2 linked regions of the Homo sapiens genome follow. The protein of the gene in region 1 purifies or fractionates together with the protein of each later gene. This does not show direct contact. Each region holds a gene or a part of one and is shown on either strand. Other genes may lie near its edges.

Evidence for each region.
Region 2: the proteins of TIMM21 (region 1) and PPARA purify together in Homo sapiens (co-immunoprecipitation; one large-scale study listed by IntAct). This does not show direct contact.

What each region holds. Positions count from the first base shown.
Region 1 is NC_000018.10:74,158,523-74,161,031, forward strand, and holds the end of TIMM21 (mitochondrial import inner membrane translocase subunit Tim21 precursor), read left to right. Parts: 3' UTR 1-2,009; downstream 2,010-2,509. UniProt on the Homo sapiens protein: Participates in the translocation of transit peptide-containing proteins across the mitochondrial inner membrane.
Region 2 is NC_000022.11:46,230,526-46,234,025, forward strand, and holds part of PPARA (peroxisome proliferator-activated receptor alpha), read left to right. Parts: intron 1-1,266; coding exon 1,267-1,714; intron 1,715-3,500. UniProt on the Homo sapiens protein: Ligand-activated transcription factor. Key regulator of lipid metabolism. Activated by the endogenous ligand 1-palmitoyl-2-oleoyl-sn-glycerol-3-phosphocholine (16:0/18:1-GPC). Activated by oleylethanolamide, a naturally occurring lipid that regulates satiety.

The sequences.
Region 1 (2,509 bases):
TCCGTTCTTCACAGCTGCCTTCCAGAATGTGTTCAAAAGAAAGACAAGAAGGAGTGTATGGCTTATAAAGTGAATCTAATACAGTATTTGTTGCATTTAAACAAACTAGACATTTTCTTACGGAAAAATTATGAAATACAGCATATTTTATGTTCTCCCATTGACTCAATCATGACAATATTTCTGCTTTAACACCATCTTTCATGATTAGAAATGTTTGTTATTGGAAATGTTACACCATGTAAATAAAGGAAATAGATTTTAGTATTGTATTCATTTTATATTATAGAACTGCATAATGTCTGCAGAATAAAATTAAAACTAACAAATATGTCATTAGCAGCTGCCCTCCGCATACTTTGGAATCTGACTTGAGATAAGCATGTGAAAATGGTTGAGGGCCATAGGGAACCAGATGGTAAATACATTCTTCAAAATTGTGTGAGTTTTAGGAATCTGTCTCATATTTCGCGCTTCATGAATTAAGGGCCTAGTACATAGCGGGAAAAGTACACACTCCCAAGTTGGGTAGACCTGGGCACCCACCCCACCTTTTCTAGCAGGTGCGTGGTCAAGTGTCCCTGTTGTGTGGGTTGTTAGGATGGCAGTGTGATGAGAGGTACAAGCCTGGACCATAGAAGGCAGCCATGAAGTGCCCTCATCCCCTTTAGAACTTACTTGCACTGATACTTCTGACTGCCAAAAGAACATGGGAGTGAATGAGAGACATTCAAATACGTGTGTGAGGCCCCTTAAAGAAAAAAAAAAAAAAAAAGGAAATTCTATTTTATTTGAAATATTTGCTGGGGATTTGGAAAAAAGTGACCTTCACTTACAAGATCCTGATTCCATATCTATGTAAGTGCTATGTGCATTGGGAGGGGTCTAGAACCATGTTTATCTGCGGTGGCTTCAGTGTGAGGTATCCCCTCTGATGTGTTTGTTCCTTCTCCCCGAGAACTGTCTGTAGAGGAATTTCTGATGTGTTCTTGAAATTTTGGGATATTCAGGATAGAGAGACCTCCAGGCAATCTATCTCCCCTTTTTACTTTATCTCCCTGCTTAATTTAGTTAGTTTCTTGGTTTGACTGCTTGTTTTAGATGTTTTTAATTATAAAAATTTCCAACATTTAAGGAGTATAGAAAATATAACAGACACTCGTCTCCCTGACGTAACACACTTTGACTGAATGAGGCCTTAACTTAGGCTTTCTCTCCTAATCGTTTTTTCCTTTGCTATAGAATGTTCAGTTTCAGGATTCACTGAAATGTCAACATTTAACAGGCTGAGAAGTTCCACTTGCTATCCTAAACTCAAAAAAGCAGCCCTGCTCTTCAAACAACCTGCTCAAACTGTAGCTTGCTGAAGAAGCCCGGCATCTGAGCTCAGGTGGGGATTTAGCCACCCTCCATGGCCCTGTCATTTGACTTAAGACTGTTTGCTTTTTCTGTATTCATTTTTATGCACCTGCCATTTTACAATATGCTCATGCCCCTTTAAGATCTGAGCTTTTGGCCAGGCGAGGTGGCTCATGCCTATAATCCCAGCACTTTGGGAGGCTGAGGCAGGTCAATCACTGGAGGTCAGGAGTTCAAGACCAGCCTGGCCAACATGGTGAAACCCTATCTACTAAAAATTCAAAAAAAAAAAAATTAACCAGGCACGTTGACACACTCCTGTAATCTCATCTACTCAGGAGACAGGAGAAGCGCTTGAACCCAGGAGGCAGAGGTTGCAGTGAGCCAAGATCATGTCACTGCACTCCAGCATGAGTGACGGAGTGTGACTTCGTCTCAAAAAAAAAAAACAAAAAACAGATCTGAGCTTTTATAATTAGAAATAAAACTAAATTACTTTTTCAAAAGGAAAAACTCTGTACCAATAAGAGATTCTTCTGTATAGCCACAGGAAAATGTGATGTGTAACTCTCTAGATCTCTGTTTTCATTCCCTCTGATGTACCCTACTAAATGTTAAAATTTCTGTGTTTTAAGACCCTCTTTAATCCACTTTGATTGTGGTGTCTCTGTCCATGGGCTTACTCCCACTTTTTCTCTGAATTCTAGGGCACTTATCTGACTCTGCCTGGTATCCCCTTCCGTCATATTTGTGAATTTGCAAATGCTCTGGTCATTTTCCTCCAAGGCCTCTGTCATTCCTCCACACCTGATCAGTGAACTCTTTTCACAACTAACTCTAGAGCAGACTCTCCTGTCACTGTTTGCTCTTCCTCCTTAATGAAGAAATTATATGCAAGGCAAGAGTTTATCAGAAGTTCTGCTTTTAGCCCCGTGAGATTTCCAGCCTAACTACCCTGCAAGCTCCCTTCATAACTATTGTTGATCAATGCTAGTAATACTTTATCCATTTATTTCCATTTGGTAAGCCATTACAATATTACTTCTGTTTCTCTTATTCTCATCCAGAGACAGTTCCCCAATTCCTAATTCATAGATTTCTACTCAGGGTTACACTTACTATTTATTTTATATAGTACCACTCATGTGTT
Region 2 (3,500 bases), on another chromosome or scaffold:
CATTTTCCCCGGCTCTCCCACACATGTAATCCCTTCTGAGCATGTTGGCTTCAAATAATATGGCCAGCCACCTCTTCCACCACGAGATCTTCAGGAAATGGCAGGCCACTGGGTTTACATGCAGATGGCATGGGAGCACACAAGGCACGGCTGTGGGGAGTTGGCACTTGCTCCAGAATATGGAGCACCGAGTGAAGGTTTCAGTTTCCTGCACTGAGAGAAACAAGGGCATTCCGAGGCTTTTCCACTTTATCCCTAAAGAGTTTCACAACGCTTGTTTGCCGATTTCTACATAGATGCCACCTTTCTGAGTTGTATGTATTTACATGCCAAATGTATTCATTGAGCAGCGTTAAATAATGGTGTTCACCCCTAAAGTGCATATACTGGTAAAATTAAGAATGATCGTAATTAAGCCTCTTGCAATAGTCATTAGTTCAGAGAATATTTAAGAATATTAAAGGTGCTTTGCTAATGTCCTCGTTAGTTTTGTTTTGACAAAATCAGTACTTCAGTTTCTTGTTTCTTTTTTTTTTGAGACGGAGTCTTACTCTCGCTCTGTCGCCCAGACTGGAGACTGGAGTGCAGTGGCACGATCTTGGCTCACTGCAACGTCCACCTCCCAGGTTCAAGCGATTCTCCTGCCTCAGCCTCCCGAGTAGCTGGGGTTACAGGCACACACTATGCCTGGCTAATTTTTTTTTTTTTTTTGAGACGGAGTCTCGCTCTGTCACCCAGGCTGGAGTGCAGTGGCGCAATGTCGGCTCACTGCAAGCTCTGCCTCCTGGGTTCACGCCATTCTCCTGCCTCAGCCTCCCGAGTAGCTGGGACTACAGGCGCCCGCCACCACACCCAGCTAATTTTTTTGTATTTTTAGTAGAGACGGGGTTTCACCATGCTGGCCAGGCTGGTCTCGAACTCTTGACCTCAGGTAAACCACCCACCTCAGCCTCCCAAAGTTCTGGGATTACAGGCGTGAGCCACCATGCCCAGCCCAGTACTTCAGTTTCTTAGCGATGAAATCCACCCAATGTCAGGCGATGACTATTATTATTTTACTGATTTATACTGTTTGTTCTCTATTAATGTCTTATTTTCCCCAACCGATTTTGAAGTTGAGTAAGGACTATGTTCCGCGGGTATCTTGAGTCCTCTGAGGCACTGAGCTTGGTGATTTGGACGCAGGAGCTGCTCATTAGTGAGCTGATAGCTGGGAGCATAGCGCATCCCACATCACCTGACTTACCTTGGTGTCCTCCTTTGTAGCCTTTTGTCATACATGATATGGAGACACTGTGTATGGCTGAGAAGACGCTGGTGGCCAAGCTGGTGGCCAATGGCATCCAGAACAAGGAGGCGGAGGTCCGCATCTTTCACTGCTGCCAGTGCACGTCAGTGGAGACCGTCACGGAGCTCACGGAATTCGCCAAGGCCATCCCAGGCTTCGCAAACTTGGACCTGAACGATCAAGTGACATTGCTAAAATACGGAGTTTATGAGGCCATATTCGCCATGCTGTCTTCTGTGATGAACAAAGACGGGATGCTGGTAGCGTATGGAAATGGGTTTATAACTCGTGAATTCCTAAAAAGCCTAAGGAAACCGTTCTGTGATATCATGGAACCCAAGTTTGATTTTGCCATGAAGTTCAATGCACTGGAACTGGATGACAGTGATATCTCCCTTTTTGTGGCTGCTATCATTTGCTGTGGAGGTGAGTGGTTGATTTAATCTGCTGGTATCATGTCACTGACAGGCTCCTGTCTTGAAAAATTTGACAATGGGAAATCCAGTACCAGCCTGAGCTGTTCCAGTGGAGGGGACACTCACATGGTGGGAAGACGTCTGACCCCCAGTCACTGCTGAGAATTCAGTGGGAATTATAACAATATTGTATAATATTATAGTATATATTGTTATTATCTATAAATACATATTTAATATTATGTAAATGTATGACATTTTAATCATAATATTAGCCAGGTGTGGGGGTGCACACCTTTAGTCCCAGCTACTTACTCAGTAGACTGAGGCAAAAGGATCTCTTGAGCCCAGGAGTTCAGGTTGCAATGAGTTATGAATGCACCACTGCACTCTAGCCTGGGCAACAGAACAAGACCTATTTCTTTAAAAAAAAATTATATATTTTGCACAAATATATATATAGAGAAAAAGAGGTCGGACATGGGCCTGTAATCCCAGCCCTTTGGGAGGCTGAGGTGGGTGGATCACTTGAGCCCAGGAGGTTGAGACCAGCCTGGGCAACATGGCAAGACCCCGTCTCTACAAAAAAAAAAATAGAAAAAATTAGTCAAGTATGGTGGCATGTACCTGTAGTCCCAGCTACTTGAGAGGCTGAGGTGGGAGGATCACTTAAGCCCAGGAGACAAAGGTTGCAGTGAGCCAAGGTCACGCCACCACACTCCAGCCTGGGCGACGAAGAATGACCCTGTCTCAAAAAAAAAAAAAAAAAAAATTATACACACACACACACACACACATTTCGTTTATATTATATCTAATATTATAAACAGATATAATTTATATATTATGATATTCCTGTATATATTATATAATGATGTTGTATTCATATTATAGACAATATTGTATGAAGTGCTATACAGATGTCAGTATAGTTGCTGTCACAGTTGGTTATGTTGATGAAAAGTATATTTCCTAATGCAAAATATAATATCAGTCAGCAGCCAAGTGGCAGTGACTGCAAGGTTTGCTTTGCCCGAGGAAGCAGATCCCAGGGAAGGCCGATCTGGTCCTCTCTGTGGAAGCTGGCTCTGCAGCCTCCACATTTTTGGCTCGGTGTCACGTTCCTTTAAATAGCCCCATCTCAGGTCTAGGAAGGTCATCCACCTACTGCAAACTCGGCTGACCTTACCCAGGGTTGGTGGAGACAGATGGGGTCTCCCACACTGCCTGCAGCCATACTGCGCCTGGGGGATTGACTCACTGTCAGCATGGAGCTGACTCAGCCCTACCAGCCGTGCCCGTTACTGTGTGGCTGGGCACAAGTCAGATGAAGGAAGTCCTTGCGCTCTGGCATAAAGTGTACAAAGACAAAGCAGTTATGCATAATTTGTCCTTTAGTATGGTCAGGATGTAGCATTGTGGGTAAAATGCAGTTGCAGAACTATTTATATGTAGCATGATCACAGTTTTATAAAGGAAATTATAATCCTATATCAATCCTATGTATATAGAAAAATGTCCAGTGAGATATATGTTAAACCTATTATGGTGGGATTAAAATTATGAGGGGGGATTTCTATTTTTCAAAAGATTCCTCCTTTTTTTTTTTTTTGAGACAGAGTCTCCGTCTGTCACCCTGGCTGGAGTGCAGTGGCACGATCTCAGGTCACTGCAACTTCCGCCTCCTGGGTTCAAGTGATTCGCCTGCCTCAGCCTCCTGAGTAGCTGAGATTACAGGAACATGCCAGCACACCTGGCTAATTTTTGTATTTTTAGTAAAGATGGGGTTTCACCAT